Homo sapiens: one gene and its partners. The protein of the gene in region 1 interacts with the protein of each later gene in a pairwise test. Each region holds a gene or a part of one and is shown in the gene's direction. Other genes may lie near its edges. The genes, in order: MAGEA4, COX8A, UQCRB and AMOT.

Evidence for each region.
Region 2: the proteins of MAGEA4 (region 1) and COX8A interact in binary tests that used the Homo sapiens proteins (3 or more experiments, as listed by UniProt).
Region 3: the proteins of MAGEA4 (region 1) and UQCRB interact in binary tests that used the Homo sapiens proteins (3 or more experiments, as listed by UniProt).
Region 4: the proteins of MAGEA4 (region 1) and AMOT interact in binary tests that used the Homo sapiens proteins (3 or more experiments, as listed by UniProt).

What each region holds. Positions count from the first base shown.
Region 1 is NC_000023.11:151,908,686-151,915,894, forward strand, and holds the start of MAGEA4 (melanoma-associated antigen 4), read left to right. Parts: upstream 1-4,203; 5' UTR 4,204-4,284; intron 4,285-6,824; exon of another isoform or gene 6,825-6,952; intron 6,953-7,209. UniProt on the Homo sapiens protein: Regulates cell proliferation through the inhibition of cell cycle arrest at the G1 phase. Also negatively regulates p53-mediated apoptosis.
Region 2 is NC_000011.10:63,970,486-63,977,044, forward strand, and holds COX8A (cytochrome c oxidase subunit 8A, mitochondrial), read left to right. Parts: upstream 1-4,134; 5' UTR 4,135-4,195; coding exon 4,196-4,309; intron 4,310-5,739; coding exon 5,740-5,835; 3' UTR 5,836-6,058; downstream 6,059-6,559. UniProt on the Homo sapiens protein: Component of the cytochrome c oxidase, the last enzyme in the mitochondrial electron transport chain which drives oxidative phosphorylation.
Region 3 is NC_000008.11:96,232,546-96,240,235, reverse strand, and holds the start of UQCRB (cytochrome b-c1 complex subunit 7), read left to right. Parts: upstream 1-4,690; 5' UTR 4,691-4,705; coding exon 4,706-4,724; exon of another isoform or gene 4,725-4,943; intron 4,944-5,699; exon of another isoform or gene 5,700-5,813; intron 5,814-7,008; coding exon 7,009-7,080; intron 7,081-7,690. Other genes in the region: MTERF3 (transcription termination factor 3, mitochondrial isoform 1 precursor), read left to right, coding at 551-745. UniProt on the Homo sapiens protein: Component of the ubiquinol-cytochrome c oxidoreductase, a multisubunit transmembrane complex that is part of the mitochondrial electron transport chain which drives oxidative phosphorylation.
Region 4 is NC_000023.11:112,830,830-112,837,854, reverse strand, and holds part of AMOT (angiomotin), read left to right. Parts: exon of another isoform or gene 1-4,230; intron 4,231-5,484; 5' UTR 5,485-5,561; intron 5,562-7,025.

The sequences.
Region 1 (7,209 bases):
AGGCATCCAAGATGTATTTCATTTGGTGAATGGATTAAAAAACACGTAGATTAAAAAAACAGAATAGAGCCCCAACATAGACCTGCACACATACAATCAAGTGATTTATAACAAAAGCAATAAAGGTGAAAGTATAGTTGTTCCAACAATTGGTACATGAACAACTGGGTATCTAAACAAAAATAATAATAATAACCTAGACAAATCCTTAGGTATTTCACGAAATTAACTCAAAATACATCATAGACCTAATGCAAAATGCAAAAACTATACAACTTCTATAAGAAAACATGAGAAAATTTACATAACTTTGTTTGTTAAAGAGCTTTTAAATTAAACACCAAAAGCAAAAGTAGCAATGAGCACACCTAGCACCCAGAAGTAGATTTCTAGAACCATTTCCCATTAAAAGGAACCAGATATTTGGAGAAATGGCTTATTTATGACTGGGGCAGGGCATAAACCTGACGAGCCTGGGCCATTTTGCAGCCCTAGAAATTAAGGGCTAGAGAATATGATAAAGGACATTACAGTGTTGCAAATCCAGACTATGGAAAACTGGAAAGAACATAAGATATGTTTCTTTCCAACAACGAAGCGATGGCAAGAAAACAGATCATGTGGAGGGGACCTACAGGTGAGAGAAGATTTAATTACAAAAAATCACTATGTAATACTATTTTTGGGTACTCATCCAAATAAACAAATTTTTATAAAGTATAAGTCTTCTAGATAAGTGCATAAAACAGTTGAACATTTCATAATCATTTATTTATTTTTTAGAAATGAGAATTGTATTGGGTTTTTATTTGTAGTGATTGTGACCCAGAGGTGACTACAATCACGGGTGCTGCAGCCACCCAGGGAACACCTCGCCTGGTACCTGCAGCCATTCTCTGCGAGGGGTACAGCTGGGTACAATGTCCTTGTCTTTTAAAAATGAATATTGAATTATTTAGAGATGAAATGGTATGCTGTCTTTGATTTGATCCACATTATTCCAGCAGCTGAGATGCAGGTAGGTGAGTGTCTAACTGGAACCAGATTTGCCGTGTATTTAAGGTTGTTGATGCTGAGCGTCAGGTATGCTGGGTTCATTATGTTAGTCTCTCTATTATTCTATATGTGTGAGGCTTCCCTGATAAAAAAACGTTTTTTGTCATAAATATCATGCCATTAAAAATGAAATCCTAAATGATCCAACTATTTTGTAGAAATAAAATAAACAAATGACCAAATTGATCCAAAAAGAAAACTTCAATTAAACGACACAAACTGAAACTATACAATATTCAAAGCTCAAGCCATCCTCAAACGTCCCAGGTTAGTCGGTTTCGGAGGCTGATTCCACCAAATGATCAAGGAAAACTAACCATCATCTTATCTCAACTCTTCAAAGCACGCAAAATATAGACAATTCTTCAATTCATTCTCCCAGATTAACCCTTCTGGATTCAAAAATCAGATGAGGACCACCCCCCACTCCCGATGGAAAAAACACATAAACAAGCTCTCTTACATAGCAGCAAATATCTTATGTAAATTAGTAGAATATTAAATGAACAAACAAGCTCTACCCAAGGAAAGAAAATATGATTTAACATTAGAAAAAAAAGTTTCATTGTAATTTTTTACACACAAAATAGAGGAGAAAAAATTTATCACATCAATGGGTACAGGAAAAGCTTTTGGAAGAAATTCAATATGAGTTCATGGTAAAAATATTTAGTTAACCTATATTGAAAGAGAACATACATTTCCTAAAATCAACAGCAAACAAATTTAAGAAGTTCAAAGAATTATCATTAAAGGCAGGAACACGAAGTAGATGTAGGCTATTATCTCTACGTTTTAAATCATCATTGAGACACAAAGTCAGAGCTATAAGTATCATAATAAATAAGGGGCATGAATATAGGAAAAATACATAATGTTTAGTGATAATACCCTTATCATTCTTGAAAATTCAAAGAAAAAGGCATGTGGAATATTCAAGTCAATGGGTTTTCAGAATGAGGTGTACAACAGATTACTATAGCAAAATCAAATTCTCTGCCACACAATAGCAATAACTATTAGAGTTAATTAATTTCCATTAATTAGAACAATTAATAGAAAATATGCCATTTGCAATAGCAACAAAATCCAAGAATTACCAAAAAAGAAGCCTAAGAAAAATGTGTAAGGTCTTTCTAGAGGAAACTATCAAAGTATACTGACAGATTCAGGTAAAAGGAGTTTGAAATAAGTAAAGGAGCATAACCTATTCATTGATCAGGAGCAGAACATTGTAAAAATGTCAATTCTGCTTAAATGATTTACAATTTAGTGTCTTACCTGTAGCTGCCAAAAATTACAGTCACACTTAGGCTGCTGTTCTCTGGTTCCCAAATCAACTCTGGAAAATTATAGAAGAGAAAAAGAAAGAAAGAAAAAACAACAATATAAGCAATAAAATCTAAGCAACAAAACACAGAAAGTCCTGGGTGAGACTGAGGACTGTGTTGAACTGGTACTTATGTTTGGGGCGGTGTCAGTTGGAGGGGGGTTGGCTGCAGGGATGTTGAAGTCTATAGCCTGCCTAGACGTCAGATGACAGAATGAATAGGATGAACATTTTAAAATCTCCACCTCACTGCACTGCACAATCTGAGGCAGCACCTCAAAACACGATTCCAGTAACCCTAGGGTAATAGCAGGACAGCAGGAAAATTGGGTTGGTTAAGGCAGTATGGTTCCGGAGATCTGCTAATTACAACCTGAAACCAACTTAGTGGATGAGGATTAGCATTATTATTATTATTATTATTAATATTATTATTATTATTATTATTGAGACTGTCGCCCGGGCTGGAGTGCAATGACTCGATCTTGGCTCACTGCAACCTCCGCCTACCAGGTTCAAGCGATTCTCCTGCCTCAGCCTCCCAAGTAGCTGGGATTATAGGCGCCCACCACCACGCCCAGCTAATTTTTTAATTTTTTTTCTATATTTAGTGAAGACAGTGTTTCACCCTGTTGGCCAGGCTGGTCTCGAAAAGAATTATTTTAACAGAACATAAACAATGGAATAGAAGTTGAATAGGGTATCAGAGTGAATCATGCAAACTAAGGGTAGGTATTCTTTCATAGAAATAAATATATATGTTGCTACCTATATATATCCTTGGAAGATATGTAAAATATATTTCTTTGAGGAAAAAAGGTTTCCAAAGTCCAGCTCTGGCTGGGGAGGAGCCCCCGTGGGAAGGCGTGCATCTTCTCACAGAGGTCACTACAATAACGGGTGCTGCAGCCACCCAGGGAACACCTCGCCTGGTACCCGCAGCCATTTTCTGCAAGGGGTACAGCTGGGCAAATGCTCAGAGGTGAGAGAAAAAGAGCATCTCCAACCCATCACTTCAACAAAGAGCCAGGACCCAGGAAGAGGACCCTCCTGAGTGAAGACTGAGGGTAAACCCCCGCTCAAAGAGGGGCCACAGAATCCAGCTTAGTCCCTCCTGTCAGCCCTGGAAGACCCCAGCGGCTTTGTCGCCCAAGGACACCTCTCCCCCCACTGTGACCTCAGGGGACTAGGAGTCAGAACCTTGGTCTGAGGGGAGCAGACACCATCCGCAGAGAACAGGGGTCCAGGCTATGCCAGGAATCAAAGGACTGAGGGGCACGCCTACCTCAACCCCTAACCCCAGGACCTCTCGCCTCCTCCCCCACCCCAACTCCCACCCTGGCCGAATCCGGTTCCACCCCTGCTGTCAACCCAGGTGGCCCGGATGTGACATCCCTGACTTGCGCATTGGTCTGACCAGCAACTCGAGATCCACGGAGGGAAGCAGGCGCAGGCTCTGTGAGGAGGCAAGGTGGGGGCAGGCTGTGCCAGGCGTCAAAGTCAGGACCCTAAGAGAGAGCTGAGGGTTCCCCACCCCCATTCCTATCCCCCACCCCATTCCCATTCCCTTCCACACTCCTAACCCAATCCACACCCTCATCCCCTACCAGCACCCCATCCTCCCCAACCCCGTGCCACCCTCATACCCCCATCCCCAATTCAACCCCCGCACCCTCATCCCCCACCCCACACCTGCACCCCCACCCCCCAACACCCATACCCCCATCCAGGCAGGATCCCCGGTTCCGCCCCCGCTTTCAACCAAGGAAAGCCCCAGCTGCCCGGATGTGATGCCACTGACTTGCGCACTGGGGGTTAGAGACAAGCGAGCTTCTGCGTCTGACTCGCAGCTTGAGACTGGCGGAGGGAAGCCCGCCCAGGCTCTATAAGGAGACAAGGTGAGATGCTGAGGGAGGACTCAGGAGGACCCCCACCCCACATAGACGACCACAAAAAATCCAACACCACCCCTGCTGCCAGCCCTGGGCCACTCCTGGAGACTTCTCAGTCTGTGGTGGGGGGGCCACCACCCCACTGCCACTTAAGCCTCAGGGGATTCTGAAGTCAGAGCTTGGGGTGATCAGTGCAAGACTGGTGGGGGCAGGCTCTGCCAGGCATCAACCTCAGGACCCTAAAAGCCAGCTGAGCGTACCACACCGCTATTCCCATCCCGCAACCCCATTCCCATCCCCTAACCCCTTCCCATTCCCATTCGCACTCACAAACCCATCTACACTCCCATCCTCCACCAGCTCCCCATCCTCCCAAACACCCCACCACCTTCATACCGCCATCTCCCACCCCCAAAAACCCGCCCCCTCCACCGACCTCACCCCTCCCACCCCCATCCACGCTGAATCGGGTTGCGCTCCCTCTTTCAACCCAAGAAAGCCCCAGGGGCCCGGATGTGATGCCACTGACTTGCGCATTGGGGGTTAGAGAGAAGCGAGCTGCTCTGTCTGACCAGCAGCTTGGGATTGGCGGAGGGAAGCGGGCCAGGCCCTGTGAGGAGTCAAGGTGAGACGCTGAGGGAGGACTCAGGAGGCCCCCACCCCAGATAGATGACCCCAAATAATCCCGCACCACTCCTGCTACCAGCCGTGGGCCACCCGTGGGCGGACTTCTGAGTCTGGGGCGCCCACCACCCCACTGCCTCTGAAGTTGCAGGGGACTCTGGAGTCAGAGCTTGGGTTGATTAGTGTAAGACTAGTGAGGGCAGGCTCTGCCAGGCATGGACCTCAGCACCCTAAGAGAGGGCTAAGCGTACCCCACCCCTATTCCCATCCCCCACCACGTCCCCTTTCCGATTACCATTTGCACTCCCAAACCATCCACGCCCCCATCCCCCACCAGCACTCCTCTCCTCTTCAACCCCCCACCTCTCTCATACCGCCATCTCCCACCCCAACAACCCGGGCCCTTCTACCAACCTCACCCCTCCCACCCCCATCCACACTGAATCACGTTCCGCTTCCGCTTTCAACCCACCCCCAAAAACCCGCCCCCTCCATCGACCTCACCCCTCCCACCCCCATCCACGCTGAATCTGATTTCCGCTTCCTCTTTCAACCCAAGAAAGCCCCAGGGGCCCGGATGTGATGCCACTGACTTGCGCATTGGGGGTTAGAGAGAAGCGAGCTGCTCTGTCTGACCAGCAGCTTGGGATTGGCGGAGGGAAGCGGGCCAGGCCCTGTGAGGAGTCAAGGTGAGACGCTGAGGGAGGACTCAGGAGGCCCCCACCCCAGATAGACGACCCCAAATAATCCCGCACCACTCCTGCTACCAGCCGTGGGCCACCCGTGGGCGGACTTCTGAGTCTGGGGCGCCCTCCACCCCACTGCGTCTGAAGTCGCATGGGACTCTGGAGTCCGAGCTTGGGGTGGTTAGTGTAAGACTAGTGAGGGCAGGCTCTACGAGGCATCAACCTCAGGACCCTAAGAGAGGGCCAAGCGTACCCCACCCCTATTTCTATCCCCCACCGCCTCCCCTTTCCCATTACTATTTGCACTCCCAAACCCATCCGCGCCCCTATCCCCCACCAGCACTCCTATCCTCAACCCCGCACCTCTCTCACACCGCCATCTCCCACCCCAAAAACTGGGGCCCCTCCACCAACCTCACCCCTCCCACCCCCATGGATGCTGAATTGGGTTGCGCTTCCGCTTTCAACCCACCCCCAAAAACCCGCCCCCTCCACCGACCTCACCCCTCCCACCCCCTTCCACGCTGAATCGGGTTTCCGCTTCCGCTTTCAACCCAAGAAAGTCCCAGGTGCCCGGATGTGATGCCACTGACTTGCGCATTGGGGGTTAGAGAGAAGCGAGCTGCTCTGACCAGCCGCTTGGGATTGGCGGAGGGAAGCGGGCCAGGCCCTGTGAGGAGTCAAGGTGAGATGCTGAGGGAGGACTCAGGAGGCCCCCACCCCAGATAGACGACCCCAAATAATCCCGCACCACTCCTGCTACCAGCCGTGGGCCACCTGTGGGCGGACTTCTGAGTCTGGGGCGCCCACCACCCCACTGCCTCTGAAGTCGCAGAGGACTCTGGAGTCAGAGCTTAGGGTGTTTAGTGTAAGACTAGTGAGGCCAGGCTCTGCCAGGCATCAATCTCAGGACCGTAAGAGAGGGCTAAGCGTACCCCACCCCTATTCCCATCCCCCATCACGTCCCCTTTCCCATTACCATTTGCACTCCTAAACCCATCCGCGCCCCCATCCCCCACCAGCACTCCTCCTCGACCCCCCACCTCTGTCATACCGCCATCTGCCACCCCAAAAACCGGGGCCCCTCCACCAACCTCACCCCTCCCACCCCCATCCACGCTGAATCGGGTTCCGCTTCCGCTTTCAACCCACTCCCAAAAACCCGCCCCCTCCACCGACCTCCCCCCCACCCCCATCCACGCTGAATCGTGTTTCCGCTTCCGCTTTCAACCCAAGAAAGCCTCAGGGGCCCGGATGTGATGCCACTGACTTGCGCATTGGGGGTTAGAGAGAAGCGAGCTGCTGTCTGACCAGCAGCTTGGGATTGGTGGAAGGAAGCAGGCCAGGCCCTGTGAGGAGTCAAGGTGAGACGCTGAGGAGGACTCAGGAGGCCACCACCCCAGATAGACGACCCCAAATAATCCTGCACCACTCCTACCTGCCGTGGGCCACCTGTGGGCGGACTTCTGAGCTTGGGGCGCCCACCACCCCACTGCCTCTGAAGTCGCAGGGGACTCTGGAGTCAGAGCTTGGGGTGTTTAGTGTAAGACTAGTGAGGCCAGGCTCTGCCGGGCATCAATCTCAGGACCCTAAGAGAGGGCTAAGCGTACCCCACCCCTAT
Region 2 (6,559 bases), on another chromosome or scaffold:
CACATGTACTAAAATTGGAACGATACAGAGAAGATTAGCATGGCCCTTGTGCAAGGATGACACGCAAATTCGTGAAGCGTTCCATATTTTTGAAGGGATTACAAACCAAGAGATACAAGTGGCTTCTAGAAATTAGAAAATAAAAGGTAATGGATTCTGCCCTGGAGCCGTGACAAGAAATACTGGCCTTCTGACATCTTGATTTTATATTTCTGATCTTTAGAACTGTAAGAAAATGAATTTGTGTTGTTGTAAGCCAAAAGCAAACAAACAAAAAACTAGAATGGGGTGGGGAAGGTGAGGGAGCGATGAAGAGGGATGAGCTTGGGGCCTGGGAACACATCCCTCCAGAGGAAGCTCAGACACAGCTCCCCTTCTAGGGCACCGCGAGTTCATTGCAACCTTGCTGTGACACCACCCCCCCGCCCCACCACCATGGAAGAGAAACCATGGGCTGAGGTTTCTCTTCCAAAGCTCCTGTTTCTCAATCTCTTGCCATCCCATCGCCACCCCCTGCCACAGCCTTTGATGTTATTAACCTCAATGTCAAAACTGGAACTTCTGGGAAGTCCACCTCTGCAGCAGCATGTGTGGTGGCTAAAAGCATGGCTTTTGGAGGCAACAGAACTGCCCTGTAATCCTGGCAAGGCAGCCTTGTAGCTTCATGATCTTGATCAAGTCACCTGACTCTTCAGGCCTATTTCCTCATTTGTAAAAAATTCGAAATAGGGCAGGCGCAGTGGCTCCCGCCTGTAATCCCAGCATTTTGAGAGGCCACAGTGGGAGGATTGCTTGAGCCCAGGAGTTCAAGACTAGCCTGGGCAACATAGTGGGACCCTGCCTCTACAAAAAATAAAAAGCCAGGTATGGTGGTGTGTGCCTGTAGTCCCCAACTACTCGGGAAACTGAAGCAAGAGGATCACTTGAGCCTGGGAGGTCGAGGCTGCAGTGAGGTGTGGTCGTGACACTTCACTCCAGCCTAGGCGACAGAGCAAGACACTGTCTCAAAATAAAATAATTGAAATAATAATAGCATCTATTTCATGACATTATTGTAAACCTGGAATGAGATTGTACCATTAAGACCTGGCCCAGGGGCTGGTCCCACACCCCCTTTCTCATGTGCCTTCTACCTAGTTCAATACTGTTCAGCCTCCTGCAGTTTATAAACATTCTGAGTGTCTGGTTGGAAACAGTGGTGAACCAACACAGGCTCTGCCCTCAGGTGGCCCCTAGTCTTGATGGAGACCCACCATGTGGGGCAGGGCTGACACAGGTGTTGCTGGGCACAGAGGAGACACAGGCTTGGGGTGACCAGCGAAGGCATCCTGAGTAGTGCCACCCCACATATCTTCCTAGCACATCATGGTTTTATTTTCACCGTGACACTTACACAATAGTTTCTAATTAAGTGCCTGTTTATTGTCTGTTTTTTCCCTCCAGAAGTCAGCTTTGTGACAAGAAACTCTATCCACCTCGTTCATACTGGTGTCTACAATAGTTCCTAACACACAGTAGAGGCTAATAAATATTCACTGAATAAAGTAAGTGGTATCATTAACTGGAAGCCAGGAAGCAGGAGTTAGCATGGTGAAAAAGGCAGCCTGCATAGGAGCTGAAAAAATGAACATAAAATGCAGAAGCAACGCCGGGCACAGTGGCTCATGCCTGTAATCCCAGCACTTTGGGAGGCTGAGGCGGGCAGATGACATGAGGCCAGGAGTTCAAGACCAGCCTGGCCAACATGGCGAAACCCTGTCGCTATTAAAAATGCAAAAATTAGCCGGGTGTGGTGGCATACACCTGTAATCCCAGCTGCTTGGGAGGCTGAGGCAGGAGAATCGCTTGAGCCAGGGAGGTGGAGGTTGCAGTGAGCTGATATTGCACCACTGCACTCCAGCCTGGGTGATGCATGTCTCAAAAACAAAACCCAAAGTGCAGAGGCAAGGCCAGGTGCCCTGACAAATGCCTGTAATCCCAGCACTTTGGGAGGCTGATCTGGGTGGATCGCTTCAGCTCACGAGTTTGAGACTAGCCTGACTAACATAGCAAGACCCCCCTCCAGCTCTACAAACACTACAAAAATTAGGCTGGGCGCTGTGGCTCATGCCTGTAATCCCAGCACCTTGGGAGGCCAAGGTGGGTGGATCGCCTGAAGTCAGGAGTTCGAGACCAGCCTGGCCAACATGGTGAAACCTTGTCTCTACTAAAAATACAAAAAATAGCCGGGCATGGTGGCAGATGCCTGTAATCCCAGCTACTCAGGAGGCTGAGGCAGGAGAATTGCTTGAACCCGGGAGGCGGAGGTTGCAGAGAGCCAAGATAGTGCCACTGCACTCCAGCCTGGGCAACAGCGCAAGACTCTATTTCAAAAAAAAAAAAAAAAAAAAAAAGCCAGGCATGGTGGTGGGCACCTGTAATCCCAGCTACTTGGGAGGCTGAGGTGGGAGGTTGGCTTGAGTCTGGGAGGTGGAGGTTGCAAGGCTGCAGTGAGCCGAGATCACACCACACTCCACTCCAGCCTGGGCTTAGAGCTAGACCTTGTCTCAACATCAATAACAAAATGCAGAGTGCATTTTGAATGCAACAAAAGGCTTGTTGGTGGAAATCAGAGAGCAGGGTCGAAGGTGTGGAATATTGAAGAGTTTTGAGAGTTGAGGCTGGACAGTGACATCCGGGAATTGGGATTTTGACTAGGAAGCAATGGGGAGCCACTGAAAGTATATGACTTGGTCAGATTTAGGTTTAAAAAACCAAGAAGGAAGGGATGGGGGAGGGAGAGAGAGTGATAGGGTAGGAAGGAAGGGAAGTTGGCTGCTCCAGCATGGTAACTGGAATTGAAGAGTGTAATAGTAATTGAGGGAGGTTTGGTTACTAGGTCAGTGTCAGGAATTCTCAACAAAAACGACGGAGGCCTGGTGGAGAGGAGGGGACTCTCAATAGAGAGATTTTTTTTTTTTTTTTTTTTTGAGACGGAGTCTTGCTGTGTCGCCCAGGCTGGAGTGCAGTGGCGTGATCTCAGCTCACTGCAACCTCTGCCTACCGGGTTCAAGCAGTTCTCCTGCCTCAGCCTCCCTAGTAGCTGAGATTACAGGCATCTACCACCATGCCTGGCTATTTTTTGTATTCTTAGTCGAGATGGAGTCTCACCATGTTGGCCAGGCTGCTTTCGAACTTTTTTTATTGTTGTTTTTTATTTTTGAGATGGAGTTTCGCTCTTGTGGCCCAGTCTGGACTGCAATGGCTCAATCTCGGCTCACTGCAACTTCCGTCTCCTGGGTTCAGCAATTCTCCTGACTCAGCCTCCCGAGTAGCTGGAATTACAGGCGCCCACCACCATGCCCAGCTAATTTTTGTATTTTTAGTAGAGACGGGGTTTCACCATGTTGGCCAGTCTGGTCTCGAACTGTTGACCTCAGGTGATCCACCCGCCTCGGCCTCCCAAAATGTTGGGATTACAAGCGTGAGCCACTGCGCCCGGCCAATTTTTGTATTTTTCGTAGAGATGGGGTTTCACCATGCTGGCAAGACTGGTCTCAAACTCCTGACCTCAGATGATCTACCGGCCCCGGCCTCCCAAAGTGTTGGGATTACATGCGTGAGCCACTGCGCCCGGCCAATTTTTGTATTTTTCGTAGAGATGGGGTTTCACCATGCTGGCAAGACTGGTGTCAAACTCCTGACCTCAGATGATCTACCCGCCCCGGCCTCCCAAAGTGCTGGGATTAGAGGCGTGAGCCAACGCGCCCAGCCCGTACTTTTTTTTTTTTAGTACAGACGGCCTCCCAAAAGTTCTGAGATTACGGGCGTGAGCCACCACGCCCAGCCTGAATAGAGAGAGATTTAACAGTATGAATGAAGGGAGGAGTCAAGAACAGTTTAGGCTTCTCGCGTACATGATTGGGTGGCCCCAGATGTCATTCACAAGTATAAGCCTTGGAGGCGGAACATAACTCGAAGAAGAGCCCTTTTGTGCTCCGCCCATAGCGTAGGAAGGTGTCAATTGGCTGTTTCGAGGAACGCGCCAAAAACTGCCAAGGGCTGTGGGAGGTGTGTTCTTGCGTCATTTCCGAGAGACTTCCGCGCCGCAGTTTCCCTGCTTCCCCAGCTCCAGAACTTCCGGCCAGCGCAGCCATTTTGGCTTCCTGACCTTGGGCTACGGCTGACCGTTTTTTGTGGTGTACTCCGTGCCATCATGTCCGTCCTGACGCCGCTGCTGCTGCGGGGCTTGACAGGCTCGGCCCGGCGGCTCCCAGTGCCGCGCGCCAAGATCCATTCGTTGCCGCCGGAGGGGAAGCTTGGGATCATGGTGAGGAACGGGCCTGGAAGAGCGCGGGAGGCGCCGTGGGCTGACCCCTTCTGCCTAGCTGACCTCAGGTGGTCCTGAGAATGCCTCGCGCCCCGCAGCGTAGCGGGGAGCAGCAGTGCCGGTTTGGGCATGTCTGGAGGGCGCGAACGACGGGGACAGTGCCCGGGCGACAGTCGGGGCTGTCGGCGTTAGGTCTTTCCCCACAGCCCCAGGATCTCGGGTCTGGTCCTGTCAGGCCCTCCCTCTCCTGTCGCCTCCTCGCTGCGCCGCCTCCTGCCGACTTCTTTAGCCGCTCTGAGCCCATTTTCTCGTTGGTTCACTGGGGGATGCCTGACGCTGTCAGCGACGAAAATGGTTGTTACTGCTATTTATTTTATTTTATTTTATTTTACTTATTTATTTTGAGACGGGTTCTCGCTCTGTCGCCAGGCTGGAGTGCAGTGGCGCGATCTCGGCTCACTGCAGCCTCCGACTCCCGGGTTCAAGCGATTCTCCTGCCTCAGCCTCCCGAATAGCTGGGACTACAGGCGCGTGCCACCATGCCCAACTAAATTTTGTATTTTTAGTAGAGACGGGGTTTCACCATGTTGGCCAGGATGGTCTCGATCTCTTGACCTCGTGATCCGCCTGCCTCAACCTCCCAAAGTGCTGGGATTACAGGCGTGAGCCACTGCGCCCGGCCTGGGAGGGGGTTTTCAGGCAAGGAAGGATAGGTATCGTTTTGGAGTTACTGGCCCATGCAAGGATCCTGGGTCTTAACATACAGGCTTTGCTTTTTTTGTTTGTTGTTTGTTTTTTTGAGACGGAGTCTTGCTCTGTCACCCAGGCTGGAGTGCAGTGGTGCGATCTCGGCTTACTGCAACCTCCGCCTCCCAGGTTTAAGCCAAGCCATTCTCCTGCCTCAGTCTCCCGAGTAGCTGGGATCACAGGCGCCCGCCACCACTCCCGGCTAATTTTTTGTATTTTTAGTAGAGACGGGGTTTCACCATGTTGGTCAGGCTGGTCTCTAACTCCTGACCTTGTGATCCGCCCGCCTTGGCCTCCCAAATTGCTGGGATTACAGGTGTGAGCCACCATGCCCGGCCCAGACCAGCTTTAAAACAGGTTTCAATAAATCCTGCTTCCTGTCCCTTCCTTTACCATCTGGTGGTGCATTTCTCCCTGAACCCTAACCCCAGCTGTCTCTCCTTCCTCTCACTCTTCCCCCTCCTTATAACTGACCCTTTACCTCAAGGGTTAGCGTAGCTTTGGACCTGCTCTGTCTGCTCCGTGGAGCGTGGATTCCTTTAACGTGAGGATGCGGGGCCTCCCACTTGCCTCTGAGTCCTGGCTCCCTGAGCGGGGCTTTCTGCTGCCTGGGAACTGCAAGGACTTAGAGAGCCTAGGGGAATACTGACTCCGAGGTGCCTTCTTTCTTGTGCTCTGTGTAGGAATTGGCCGTTGGGCTTACCTCCTGCTTCGTGACCTTCCTCCTGCCAGCGGGCTGGATCCTGTCACACCTGGAGACCTACAGGAGGCCAGAGTGAAGGGGTCCGTTCTGTCCCTCACACTGTGACCTGACCAGCCCCACCGGCCCATCCTGGTCATGTTACTGCATTTGTGGCCGGCCTCCCCTGGATCATGTCATTCAATTCCAGTCACCTCTTCTGCAATCATGACCTCTTGATGTCTCCATGGTGACCTCCTTGGGGGTCACTGACCCTGCTTGGTGGGGTCCCCCTTGTAACAATAAAATCTATTTAAACTTTACTTCAGAAATTCATTGTGCCTTCCCTCCTGCCTGGGCTCATGCCTCCACTGGCACTGGGTGGAGGTGTGGAGAAGAGCGCCCGGCTGGCTGCCCTGTGGTAGGTTTTGTGTGCCTCAGCTGGACTCCTCGTGTGCTTCTGTACCTTTAAATGGTGCCTGGCTTCCTGGGAAGACAAAGCCTGTTGTCATTGTGCAGCTTTTCTGGCTCATCCCCTCCAGCTCCCTTGTTTGTGCAAAGCCCAATGGGCGTGTATGTGTCTGTGTGTGTGTGTGTGTGTGTGTGTGTGTGTGTGTGTGTGTGTCCCACTGGGGCTGGATCTTCAGCTAGAAGCCTTTCCTCTAAGGGGCCAGCCTTCTCTGGTCTTCCTTTTTGGTGGACTTCATTTCTTAGGTGCTGGTGCCCTTCCTAATTGGGGGTAGGGACTTTGCAGAATCTTGGCTTTTTTTTTTTTTTTTTTTTTTTTTTGAGACTGACTCCTGCTCTGTTGCCCAGGCTGGAGT
Region 3 (7,690 bases), on another chromosome or scaffold:
TACTCTGTTGCCCAGGCTGGAGTGCAGTGGCGCGATCTCGGCTCACTGCAACCTCCGTCTCCTGGGTTCAACCAATTCTCCTGCCTCAGCCTCCTGAGTAGCTGGGATTACAGGCATGCGCCACCACGCCCAGCTAATTTTTGTATGTTTAGTAGAGACAGGGTTTTGCCATGTTGGCCAGGCTTGTCTTGAATTCCTGACCTCAGATGATCCGCCTGCCTCAGCCTCACTAAAGGCGTGAGCCACCACGCCCGGCCGAAGATTTGCTTTTTTAACACATTCTCCTCTGTCTCTGGAGCACTCAATCTTCTTTGCACACAGTATAGCCCTGAATTATTTTATTATTGTTTTGTATGTTGATTTTGAATCCCTTTTTCTAGTTTCTTCACAGAAAATATAGGATTTAAATCCTCTGGCATTTATCCTACTTACTGAACACATGGTCAGTACTTGGTATTGGTTAACCTATTAAAATTTTTGCCAAGTAAACTTTTTAATATTTCATCCTCCCGTGTGCAGTGTTTTTTAAAAACTTTTTTTTCTTTTCTAGGTATTTAATACAAGGCTGTTTAAGGTCAAAGAAAGACACTTGTTTCTTACCTATTTAGGAAGAGCACAGTATGATCCAGCAAAACCTAACTACATCTCTTTGGACAAACTAGTATCTATTCCTGATGAAATATTTTGTGAAGAGATTGCCAAAGCATCAGTACAGGACTTTGAAAAATTCTTAAAAACGCTTTAGATTTTTATGTATGTTAAAATGCAGTATTGTAAAGTGAATATATATATGAATAAATGAATATATTTTTAAATGCCTCGGGTCTCAACTGATATTGGAAACCATTTGATACTGTAAATTTGGGTACATATACTGTGGTAGAACTTTCATCAAGTTCCTAGTGACTTAATTCTTGTTTGACTTTTTCCTTCCTTCTTAGGAAATACAGCAAGCTCAGAGAAGGGGAAAGAGTTGGTTTACTTTAAGTTGGTGCTTTGTCATTCTCGTGAAGATGAAAACAGTGGAGGATTTTTAAAGTGGTTTCATTATAAAATGGCTTTATTTCCTTTGAACTGTTACGAGTTTCCAGAGCATACTACATTAGTCATCTAATATCTACTGCTCAGATAATGCTACAAAACACACTTCATTTTGGATTATCTACATTGTTAACTTCTTGAACACAGATATTCACAGTTGGCTAAGAATAAGGAAAAGGAAAGTGGAGTTTAAAGATTAGGGGCAATGAGATATAGTGAAAGGCTTAACTAGCCTTTGACTTATTACCAGTAAACAAATATTTGTTTTCCATTTACAACATGTGTTATCCTGGGCAAGTGATTTCATTTCTGAGCCTTTGCTTTTTTATTTGTAAAACGAAGCATCATGACTTCAGTTGTCTGCCTTATGATCACCAGATTGGGTAGACTGTTAACACTGGGGGCCCCCATGAACCATACCTGGTATTTGCACTCTTGTGTAGTTAGTCCTCTCCCACACTGACTCTGGGCCGATGTGATTTGGCCCAGAGGACATTTGTCAAGCAGAGGCTTAAGGATTTGCACATCAGGGCTTGCCCTCTTGGAACATTTGCTCTTGGCACCCTAAGCTACTGTGTAGAGAGGTCTGGTTACTCTGCTGGAGAAACTAGGTGGACAGAAAGATGTCTGGCCAAACCCAGCTTTTTCAGACATGCCAACTGAGCACCAGACATGCATGAAGAAATTATCTGGGATGTCCCAGACTTAGTAGATACTACACTAAGCAGAACGACCCAGCGGAATTCAGAATTGGGAGAAAGTGTTTTAAGCCGCTAACTTTGGGGGTAGTTTGTTGTGCACAGGGTTCTGTGGTGTGCTGGATGCCCTTTAAAAAACCTCATGAAAAACTAAATTTGTAATTGGTCAGGGCCAGGTATAGTGGCCTTCCTGTTACATATTTTATTCATGCAACCGACATTTGAGTTCTATAATACAGTGGTGAGTGTGGCATAGATATGTGCTTTCATGGAGTTCTCCAATGGATGAGATCAATAAACAGGAAACAATAAAAAATAAGCTGGGGACACCATGGAACCATCCTGTCCTCTCTTTCTGTGGCTCACAACCTCATTTTGCCTTTATGAATAACCCAGTGAACAACCTTAGCAGTCAGAATAGGCAAGTTGTGTTGATACAATGAACAATCCTAAAACCTCAAATGATTGAAAAACCACAAAAGTTTTTATCTTATACATGTTTCTTAGGACCACAAAGGCTCTGCTCCACATCATCTTCAGTGATACAGGTTGATGTATCCTGTCTCCATCATTTCTGGAGTGTTGCCAGTCTATGGAAAAGGAAAGGAATGTGAAGAATTGCTCTTAAAAAGTTATCACATTTTTCTTGGCCAAAGTATCACATGGCCATGCCTAACTTTAATAGGGCAGAGAGGCAATCCCTAATCCTGTGCTGGGAGGAAAGAAAACCAAAAATAGTTTTTGAATCAACAATCACTACCAGCAAACATTCAGTCTCTCTAGCTTAATTCCTTAGGAGCTGGATTTTGTGACAATTTTGGGTTTCAGATCTTTTGATATGTCTTTTCTTGCCACCTTCACCTGTAACCAGCAAGCTAAAACTTAAAGGGTGGAAGGGAGGAGAGTTTATTGAGTACCTACCCTCTGCAGGGCAATGTGCCAATGTACAAATGTACTGCATTTCTTCACATCTTTCAGACTTCACTTTGGCTAGTGTAAGATAGATCATTCATCAGCTTTAGTGCTGTATACAGGACTGACTAATGAAGAAATTGTGACAGCATGGAGATAGAAGAAAAAGGAAAATCAATATAATTTTAGAACTGGAATGTGACTAAGATCGTTAAATCTAACCTTTTGAACTTAGGATGAGACAAGGTTCTACTCTATATTGTCCCAGCTCTGAGCTTAAAACTGAGGGGAAAAAAAAGATATCACTGAGTAATGGTAGAAGTTCACCAGTAACTATCAGTCATGCTAGCTCCCCCTAATTGTTTTCTGTCTCTAGATGTTTATGCCTAAGACTTCGCATGTTGGGGTTGAGACCTTAAAAGTGAGAAAATCTATATACTTCTCTTTTGTCTTAAAATTGTGTGCAAATTCTGCAATACATCTTAGATTTAATCTTTAAAAACCTTTTCTGCTGGGCATGATGGCTCACGCGGGTAACCCAGCATTTTGGGAGGCTGACGTGGGTGGATCACTTGAGGTCAAGAGTTTGATACCAGCCTGGCCAACACGGTGAAACCCCGTCTCTACTAAAAATACAAAAATTAGCGGGCATGGTAGTGTGTACACCTGTAGTCCCAGCTACTCAGGAGGCTGAGGCACGAGTCATTTGAACCCAGGAGGCAGAGGTTGCAGTGAGCCGAGATTGTGCCATTCAGCCTGGGTGACAGAGGCTGAACAACAAAAAAAAGGGTGAAAAAAAACAAACAAAAAAAACCCAAAACCTTTTCTGACCTAACCTTCCACTAAAATAGCTAGATATAGATCTTCAGCTGGAGAAACCCAAGGCCTGAAAGGCTTGGTGTCTTTCCTGGATTAGTAGTGTAGCAGTATAGCATATGACCCTAGAATTAAGGAGCCCCAAATTTGCATCTGGATTTTCAGATTCTGGAAGAAGAACCTGGACTCTTCTAGTCATGTGCTCTTGGACAAGTTATTCAACCTTTCTGAGCCTCAGCTTTCTCCTCTCTACAATGAGATAATTACAGTACTTTTAGAATTAAAAGATAGTTTAGGGGAGTGAGAGATCACCTCCAACCCTCCCTCCCCTTTGCTCTTATGTGGGCTCTTTGGTTGAATCTAGGAACCAAATTGACACATGGCAGATTAACAAGAGAAAAGCATACTAATTTTACTAGTTTTACATGTACATGGGGATCCGCACAAAAGAGTGAAGTGGCCAATGTAAGATGCCTTTATACTTTTTACACGAACTACAAATCAGAAGAAAGGGGATCTGGCTAGGGGCAGTAAATTTCTCGCGGAGTCATTAGGAGAAAAGTGTGTGTGTTGGGGTGTAAACTTAGTGGAAGATAACGGTTACTTCGGAAAGTATATTCAGGTCCAAAGCAGCCCCCAGTTTCGTCTCTGGTGATAGGTGCTATTTTCTCCCTCTGGTAAGGGACGGGTACTCCAGAGGAATCCTGGAGGAAGCTTTATGGCTTGCTGCATGCAGGAAGAGATAGGTCATCAAACCTTTTCTGAAACTACAATTTCTCCAATATTTTCAACTCGAAATAATCAATGTACCAATTCCATATATTTTTGGGATGGCACATCCATCAGTCCTTCAATAGAAAGTAAGACGATGCCCTTAAAACATTTAGCTTCCTGCCTGGCACAAAGAGCTGAATTAATACTGTCCACGCTCCCATAGCTATTAACAGCAAATAACAGAACCCAGCTTTAAGCCTTGGTCTCCTAATTCCTGACCTGTGTTCTTCCCATCACATCACAACCAATACTTCTTAGAATGTAGCACGCAAAATGCCCCGCCTACTCCATTGGCCTCACCCTGGCCGAGAGGTGCTTACGCAGGTGCTGAACGGCAGTCGTCAGAACTGCGCCTGCGCAAGCGGCCTTTCTCTGTTCGCGATGTGACGTAACGCGCCTGCGGACTGGGCCCAGCTTGTCCTCTATGACTTACCCAGAAGGCAACGCTTCTCTTTCTGGTCAAAATGGCTGGTAAGCAGGCCGGTAAGTAACTGGGGGTCTTCTTGGCCGGCATCGTCGCGCTTCACCGTTTATTTTTGCTGCAGCTTGCTCCGTTTTCTCTCTTCTTTGTAAGTGGCCAAGTTTGTCGCGGAAGGGAAATTGGCTGCTTCAGTCCAGTGAAAAGGATGTGCTTCCCCACTCGTTTGCTGTCCCCAGGGCGGGCTTGCCTGTATAGGGTTGGGATGTTAACCCGCTGTTTGTGAAGGTGCCCGCGGTGGCTCTGACAGCCCTGGAGTTCCAGCTGCCCGTGCTTGGAAGTCCTTCCCCTTGGCCTTAGAAAAGTTAAAGGGCACAAGAGGATAACTAGTGGATGACTTTCAACCCGAATGAGCTCAGTGCTTTCTATGACCCAAGTGCTCTATCGTGTGCATTGGCCCTATAAATTTTCTTGCCATTGCGACGAGGGAGATATTAATTTCCCTTTTACGCTGATAAGATAACTGAGGCAAAGTGACCCAAGGAAGTAGAATTGGAAATATCATTGCACCCCTCGCGCTTCTCAAACTGCGAATCAGAGACAGTTGAGCAAGGGATACGAGCGACGCTTCAGGTTGACCTTGGATTATCTAGAGCGTCAGCTTGATCAGTAGGTTTGGAGAAATTTGAATTTATTGTAGGTTCTTTTTTTCTTTTTTCTTTCTTTTTTTTTTTTTTTGCTAATCTCTGCCCTCTGGCGGTACAAGTTGGAGTAGCCGTTTTGTTTGTTTGTTTGTTTTGTCTTTGAGACGGAGTCTTGCTTTGTCGCCCAGGCTGGAGTGCAATGGCACAATCTCGTCTCACTGCAATGCAACCAAGTTGGAGTAGCTTAAAAAATGTTGATCCTTTTCTCCCCGCCCCCAGCAATTGTGAAGCTGTTAGGAAACATCAGGTTGCCAGAAACATCCGTTAACCTAATTGACATTGAGCTTTTTGGGGGTGGGGGAGACTTTTTAAATAATTATTTTATTAATTTGGCAGATATTGAAGGAGTCTTACTAAATTCAAGACACTGCTTCTGTGCGTGTTTGGGAACTACATAGACCAGATCTCAACTCCCATTAGCTAACTCTGACCTTGGGTGGGATCACTTCTGTAAGCCAGCTTCCCCTTCTGTAGTAACAGACATGTAAATAAATCAGCTAATGTTGGTAAAGCAAATAGGAAAGTGTTTGGTGCACAATAAGTGCTTAGTGAATATTATTATAGTCACTGATAGGTGGTTGAATATAATCTGTCTTCCACAAGTATGTTTGTAGATTGTTGACTGATACTTGTTTTTCTAGCAGCAGTTTTATACATGACTCTTAATTTCCAAGGAGATTTGCTAAAGCCACGTAATCTGTAGTGCACTGAGTTTGCAAGCAAGGAGAGTTGAGTGAAAGGAGAGTTTGCTTTCCTTCCTTGGTAAGGGCTAACCCTAGACAAAATTTTAAAAGAGAATACAAACCTGTTCTACCTCTCCTTTTGTAAAATGTCTCTCCTAAAATGTCAGATACGGTCCTGCTGTACTTGGACCCTGCTGGGTTACTTCATCAGGCTCAGCCCTGTTCCCCAAACAGTTTTAAAATTACCTATTTCTCATCCTTTTTCAATATCCATTCCCTTGGGGGGAACTTAGTTGCTTAGGAGGAGGTAAATGGACTTCTTTTACGAATCCATATTAATGTTTAAATGACTAATGGTATCAAAATCCTCCCCAAAATACATACATTTTTAAAGAATGTGGCCAAATGAAATAACTGTAATATCGAGTAAAAATTTTAGAGGATGAGGGTCATTTAGACCTGCCAGTCTATGCTGAAATCTCACTGTCTTTTCCCTACAACTCCAGCTCTCTTGAAATGAAAAGTTTACAATTATTTCCTGTGATCTATTTATGAAACTACAAATGATGGAAATTTCCAAGTCCTTTTCCTATCTCCCACCCCTTCATTTCTGAAGGTAACAGGGCAGGCATAAGGGCACACGATGTACCTATGGATCTTTTGTACATTCAGTGTTTGAGTTTACCCTTTTCTTTCATGACTTGCCACCATTTTCCTGCAACCACTTTTGCTCATAAATAAAATAAGCACTTTTTATCAACATTTTATAGAGTATAAACTTTTTTCTTTTAAATCTAATTCTTTTGATTAAATTCTTGCTGTATATACTATATACTTTTAAAAGGAAATTTATTTCTATGTTTGCATTCATCAGCAAGATAACTGAGTACTGGTTGCTTGCCTATCAATGTGTTCATATAGTATAATTAAATTGTAGCAATTAACAGTGTGACAATTATCAGTTTCAGCATCAGGCAAGTGGCTGGATGGTATTCGAAAATGGTATTACAATGCTGCAGGATTCAATAAACTGGGTAAGCAGCTGTGCTGTTTAATGTTTTTTGTTGTTGTTGTTGTTTCTTTGTTTTTTTTTTTGTTTTTCTGAGAGTATTGCTTTTGCAAGTGTTACTGTGGTTCCAAAAACCATTTCAGTTCTTGTATACATCAGAAGATTTTAAAATTAAATCACATTATGTTAAATCCAGTTCCTTTTTAAAGTTTTTTTGAGAGAAGAGGGATGAAAGCCTCTAAAATGTTCGACTTGGTAATGATTTAAGTAGTAAGACATTTTCCTTCTACACCCCCTTTCCCAACTCTTCCACTTAAAATTTTATTTATTTATTTATTTATTTATTTGAGACAGAGTCTTGCTCTGTCACCAGGCTGGAGTGCAGTGGCGCAATCACGGTTCACTGCAACCTCCGCCTCCCGAGTTCAAGTGATTCTCCTGCCTCAGCCTCCTGAGTAGCTGGGATTACAGGCGTGTGCCACCACGCCTGGCTAATTTTTTTTGTATGTAGTAGAGACGGGGTTTCACCATATTAGGCTGGTCGCAAACTCCTGACCTCAGGTGATCCACCTGCCTCGGCCTCCCAAAGTGCTGGGATTATAGGTGTGCACTACTGCGCCCGGCCTTCCACTTAA
Region 4 (7,025 bases), about 39 Mb from region 1:
TGACAAGTTAATTAGCTGGGGACTAAACCAATTTGTTTAGAATTGTGATCCATTGATTTCCTGTCCCCAGGAATTTTTGTTGGTGTTTTACTATGATGTGTTGTCTTTAGTCTTACTTACTTTTCCCTCCTTGCTGCCTTTTGTGGACTTTGGTCCAAATTCTAGGGTTCCACCCCCAAGTCAAAGGTTAGAATTTTGTCCCAGGAACTAAGGGGGTATTAAACAGGCTGGCCATACTGCATTACTCTCCTCCATGGTGGGCTTCTGACCCCTTTTAACCCAGAGAAAGGAGGGAAGTCGCCCCTTCCACACACAACACACACAATCTGAACAAAAAAAAAGAAAAAGAAAAAGAAAGAAAGAAAATAGGAGGTCATTTGCTTTATAAAAGAATCCACAACAGGTTTTCTTTGTAAGTACTAGCTTTCCTAGTTAGTGCCTTTAAACTATGACTTGATATATAAAAATTCACTCTAACTGGGCCTTCTCGGAAGCATATTTATTGCATAAAGGAATACATAAGAATTTGTAATGATTATCGCTTAAATTAAGTGAGGCCATTATTTGGCCTTTGAAATCTTTTTGTTATATGGAATGGAGTTAGTTAATTGTCTAAATCATTCTGGCTTGTAATAATGCTGGCCACGTTAGCTCTGGCCTACAACTGCTTGCAGAAGAAAGCTAGTATTACTTTTTGAAAATAAATCAGACTTTATAGATTTTGAACAATTCTAAGGATGAGACTATCCACCCCATATAGGTAAAATGTTTTATTTCCAGCTACTGTATTTGACTAACCCAGGGATCCAGAAAGTTATTTCTAGTAAATAATGGCGACTGATGCCACTTTAACCTAAGAATCTGCAATAAGATTTCCTAGTGAGCCTATTGGTGAGAAGGACCTGGGCTCTAGGCCCAACTGTAACTCGGTTTACTACCTCTGTTAAGTTTTTTTTTTTCCACTGTAAATTATGGGTTTGGACAGGGTAATTTTGAGAGCCAGTTCTTATACGTTTATGGTTTTCTTTCTAGGCCTCAATATCTAGTATGAATGTGAATGATTGCTACTAGAATGAAGTGCAACAGTTGTTAGAAATTCAATCATCTAGTCATCATGTTAAAGAAAAAAAGATCCTGTAAGGATATATGAATATAGATGCATTATGTTTTACATTTTAACAACCCAAAATTAAGAAGCTAAGACTCTGTCCAAAACTTCAAGAATTCCATCATCCTAAGAGATCACCTGCTTTCATTTTTTCTAGTTCCTTTCAAGTCCTGGTTCCTGTACTAACATGAGTTTTAGATAATTGGAGCCACAGATATATACAATGTTGCTTTTCAATAAGAGCCCACCCAAGACTTAACTTTGTGAACCCATGTGGAGGAACTAAGTCAGAATCTGACCGAGGACACATGAAGACTCCCATATATTTTGTTTCTCAAATGCCAGGAGAGGCTAATGGATATAATAAGTAATCCCTAAACACTCTCTGTGATTCAGGAGTTGTTCATGTATCTAGCAAGGCTGTTAATTTAATTCCTTTGACCTCCTGTTATCCCTCCCCCATTCTTGTTAACAACAACAACAACAAAACTAGGGTCCACTGTTTACTTTGTGTAAATCATTGGCAATGATTTTTAAGTCACTGTATGGTGAAATCCCATCAAGTGAGTATAAATTTGAGTGGAATATGAAATCTCCAGAATGAGAAAGGAGAAGCAGGAAAGCACAAATATACTTGTTTTGTAGCATGGAAAATAATATGTTTAAATTAGACTAAAAGATAGCAAAGAAACTAAGGATTTTAGACAGTTAAATAAAAGACAAGAAGTGCAGCAGCAGAATGGCCCACACATAATGGGTTCTTCATCTGAGGTCTTCACCATGTAGTCAAATTTCATAGTTCTTTAATTTTCCTTTGATAACAAAGGTGTGGTATACATGTGATCTCTAAGATTTGATGGATTAGCCAGGCATGGTAGCTCACACCTGTAATCCCAGCGATTTGGGAGGCAGAGGCGGGCGGATCACCTAAGGTCAGGAGTTCAAGACCAGCCTGACCAACATGGTGAAACCCCTGTCTCTACTAAAAATACAGAATTACCTGGGTATGGTGGCGCATGCCTGTAATCCCAGCTACTCAGGAAACTGAGGAATAAATTGCTTGAACCTGGGAGGCGGAGGTTGCAGTAAGCCAAGATCACGCCATTGCACTCCAGCCTGGGCAACAAGAGCAAAACTCCGTCTCAAAAAAAAAAAAAAAAGATTTGATGGATTCATTCCTGGAAACCAGTGGCTCATCATAAATTAGATTAAATTTCTCTAACTGGAATAGAAAGTGTGGTATGGGTTTTTAGTATTTAGAAAGTAGCAAATGAGGAACAGGAACTTTTTTTTTTTTGTAATATATGATCCTGGAGAAAATGCAAATGGGTGTATTTGCCAATGTTTCCTAAGGCAATTCTTGAAAATCTACTCTTTTAAGTCTGTGGGCTTGCCTTGACATTTGTAAAGGCACTTTCACTCTTGCCCTAACTCCATGAAATATCATTAGCCTGTGTGACTTGAAGCCAGGATCTGGTTTTCTCTGCCCAGCCCCTCTCTGTCTTACCATGTGACCAAGGGTAAATGAATTAGCTGCTCTAAGCTTCAGTTACCCTTCTGGGAAGCAAGGATATTAATAATCACAGAGGTGTTTCGGCATGCTTCATATTGGGCACATGCTTTGAGGTCATTGGATGAAAGGTGTTTGCATGATGGCAGAGCAGGCTTATTATAGGGTCTTGAGCAGGTGTTCCTTTTTAATGAGCTTTGCTCTCTTATAACATACAGTGCCCTTTGGTGCCCCATTGCCTTACTGACTGTAATTACCATTAACCCAACATTTGTATTATTGGCCCTCTCGGCTTTTTGGAAAAAAAATTAAACAGTTTTGTACTGTGTGGTAAGTTGAGGTACAAATAAGAGGACTCTAGCATCTTACAGGGTGGTGAAAAATAGCTTCAAAAAGAAACGTTAGTTGAAAAGGGCTATAGAGATCAGTGAGTTATTCAAAGCTCCTCCAAAAGATGAAAAAGAATAAAGCAAACTTCTGTGTGTGTGCGCATGCACGTTTTAAGGGAGAAAGTTTTCAGTAATATTTGCTTGTGACACATACTGATGATAGCCAGTAACTGAAACCCAGCCATTGTAGTGTTTTATACACAGCTGGATTTTATTAATGATGGAATATTTATGCTTGCTGTACAATTCGTGGCTCATTTCCATGTGTATGTCAGAACTTAAATACCCCCAAAAGAAACATTAAGATAACATGAAATATAAATGTGGCCAAGCTAGAAAGGGTGGATTTGGTGGAGAGTCTCCCTTCTTCTTATTGGTGTCACATCAGATCACAATAACTGTGCCGCCCCCCTATCAACCTTAGGCATTGATACTGATCTTTTTTTCCCCTTATATATACCCCATAGCAAACTTCACATTTCAATCTTTTTGATATGGACAAACGATCTGCTCTCCTCTTTATAATGCAGATAAAACTGATGTATGTGTTTTTTAAGAGCATATTTTCCCTGCACATGCTTCTCATTATCCGAGAGGCCTGGACTCAATCAGTAAAGGAGCAGAGAAACCACATAATTGAAAGGAGAATGACGGTGGTGCATACTTGGAATATTTGTGGGAAGGGGATTGCTGACATCAGAAAATGTAGTGGCCTGAGTGTTAACAGCATTGAAGAGAAATCAGCTTTCTGTGTTTCTGTGTATTGAAAATTATTTTTAAGGGAATAAAAATATGGGCCAGGTTTGACATCCTTTTATGAAGTTGCCCTGGAAACTTTGATGAAGATTGTTAAAGAATAGCTCAATTAAAACCTTCCCCATTAGGAAGCTAATTAGTACATCCCTTACTCATTTTGGTTGTTTTCAAGGGGCATGTATTTGCATTGAATTAGTGACATTTGTTCCATGTGATAGCAAACTAAGATAAAAATCACAGATGGGGAAAATTATTTAGATTGCCTGTTTTGAAGAAACCTAATTCCTCTTTATTACATTTAGATTTTCAGTTCAGAGTTTTGTTTTACTATGTTTATATACAATGATCACATTTTAGTGTGGTAGCCAGTTTTGCTTTCTGGATCATGGGCTATAAACCAAAGCTTATTTGAATTTCCCGTATGAATTAGGGAAATAGAACAAATGACAACAAACCATTTTATTAAGGTAAGATTTCATTTTTTTCTTCTACAATTAGTTTCTCTTTGGTCTATGTGTGTGTGCCTGAGAGAGAGAGTAGGGGAGGCAGATTGTTTTTTTAAAAAGCAAACAGTTTTTGAAGCTAAGAAAATTTTGATGACCCCCCCCCCCCCTTTACTCCCAGGAACATTCTGTCTGCCTCAGGCTGGGACCAGTTGGGCTTTGGTTAGGGGAACATGATGAATTTTCTGACCTGGTGCTTTCTGTGACCAGGCTAAGTGGTTCTCCCTTGGAAGCCTGAAGGAAAGAGGTTATGGTGAGAACAGGAGTGCAAGATTTCTAGCAGGTTCTTTTTACTGTACTCCACCTTTTTTTAGGGGGGTGAGTACTTGCTTCTGAGATTTTAGGGCCATTTGCAGTAGAGTCAATGCTTTATAGCCAAATGTAAAATATGGGCCAGTTGTGGCCCTCCTTTCCCCGCATCACTTTAGGTGACGGTCATTCTGTACCTAGGTTCCCATATGCTGTGCCCACGGTGTAGGTGTATGCCTGCAGTAGTTTGTGCAAATAAGAAAGTTAGCTGGGTTATATGATTTGTGGTTTAATCTCACCTTAGTCCTTCTTGGGAAGGCAGGGTTTAGATTCAGTTCTGCAGTGGCACCTCAGGCAAGGCAGGTTCCCTGTGCTTGCAAGGCAACAGCAGGAGGAGGAGGGGCTGCCTTCTGCCTTCAGAGAGTGACTCAGGCCCTTTGGTATGAAGATATGAAATGCTGGCTCCTGTCCATACACCTGCTGGATGCCACACCTGCAGTCAGCACCTGAGCCCCACTCAGACACAAAAACCAGACTGAAGGCAGATGGGGCTCCCTTGAAAAGGGGCACAGCGAAACAGGGAGCTCTCAATTATGTTAGTAGAGCCCCACTGGGAACTGGGTTTAGTCATCCCAGTGTTGGCGTGGGGAAACAGATTACTTTCTTTTAGATGCAGCTCACTCACTTGCTCAAGATACTGTTAGAGTGTTTCAGGAGTTTGCTTTCCTAATGAATTTCTCTTGTGAACTGTCCTCTTAAAAACTGGAGGGGCAATTCTGTGGAGGGTTATGTCTTAGAACCAAGCACAGGGCAGGAAGTCGCAAGACCTGGGTTCCAATGCTGGCCCTACCAATGGGCAACAGTGAAATTCTGGTCCAATTAGTTATGATTAGCTATCTGTTCTGGACTTGAGCTTCCCTCTCCAGTTCTAAAATGGAATTAATCACATCTGCCTTTATTTCCCCACAGAGCTGCTAAGAAGGACAAATAAGATAGCAGAGTGAAAGAGCTTTTGTCTCCTTAGAAGGAAGGCTGAGAAACTAAAGGTAATAATAACATTATTATTATTGTTATTCCATGTCTTTCTTTGTTTTCTTCTCCTGCTGTGGCCTCTAGCAAAGTTTTGGGGAAGTTATCATTCACTCAGTATGCAACTATTAAGCACATTTTATGTACCAGTTAATGTTTTAGGTATTGGGATGCATACAATGAAAAATCACGCACCCCGCCCATGCCCTCTAAGATCTTACAGTCTAGCAACTTCCCTTTCCATTTCTGGCTCAACCCGTAATAGTGATTGCTACCAGGGCACTCAGAAGCTTAAAAGGTGAGAGTTAACTTCTTTTTTTCTCTCCACACTACAGCTGGGGATTTCTGTCCCTGGAGCTGTGTATTGCAAGGTCTAGCTTGGAGATATATGGGAGGAAAGGCCATCGGGATAAATAAAGGAATTTCTTTCCCTCCCACATTTGCAAAGTACCTAACCCTTGAATGATCTTTTTTTTTTTTTCCCCAGAAGTCCATGTTTAGTTTCATCCTGGGTTCTGTTCTGTTCCTAGTCAATATGGTCCAGCCCTCTCTTATGACCTTAGCTGTCATCCATATGCTAATGACTCCCAAAGATATATCTCAACCTATCTTTGATGTCAAATTGGTCATCACACTCCATGTCTTCTACTCAGCTTATAGGTTTTTGATATTTTCCTCCTCTTGGGAGCTTTTTCAGGTAGCCCAGGGTTTTTTGCAGAGCCCTATGTGTTGCCGGAGCTATTAGCTCATACCTCTGTTTTCCCGTTGAATTGGGCCTCCTCTGCCTGACTGGGAGCTCCTCAAGTACTGGGCTCTCTTTTTATTTATTTATTTATTTATTTATTTATTTATTTATTTATTTATTGCCACCCTAGGCCTTACCTAGCACAATGTCTGGCTACAGTAAGTGCTCAGTAAAAGTTTATGGAAAATTTGCTGTGATAAGTGTCATCATAGAGAATTCATTTTCCATGTTGAGCAGAGTTGAGGTCAGGAATAGATGGAGAGGGATTAGGGAAAAATCTTCAAAGAGAAGATGGACAGCAGAACTGCCTTATTTTGAGAGTTCTGGCTAAGAAGTCACGGAAGGAATGCCTGTTGTGTCCACTGTTGTTAAACCAGGGGCATCTCTGACCTATTGCCTCCCCTGCTTTAGGACCGGATGATTTTTATGGTCAGGTCTGCAAATCAACCTCTGTCTATAATACATTGACCATTTAAGACAGGTGTCACTTAGTCATCTAGTATTAAACAGGGCTGACCTTAAATGTGCCACCTTAACTGAGGCTGAAAATAGAGCTACACACACAGGCTCATTGATCATGCCTGCTTAGTTCTATACAGCAAAATGTCCCTTAAGATATATTGAAGATTGGGATCTAAAAACTGACAAATTCAATTCTCAGAATGTAAGCAGGTTGGGTCACAAGAACTGAATGTCTTCAAGCTGACTGTCAGATCTTTCCAAGGGCAAAAATGAA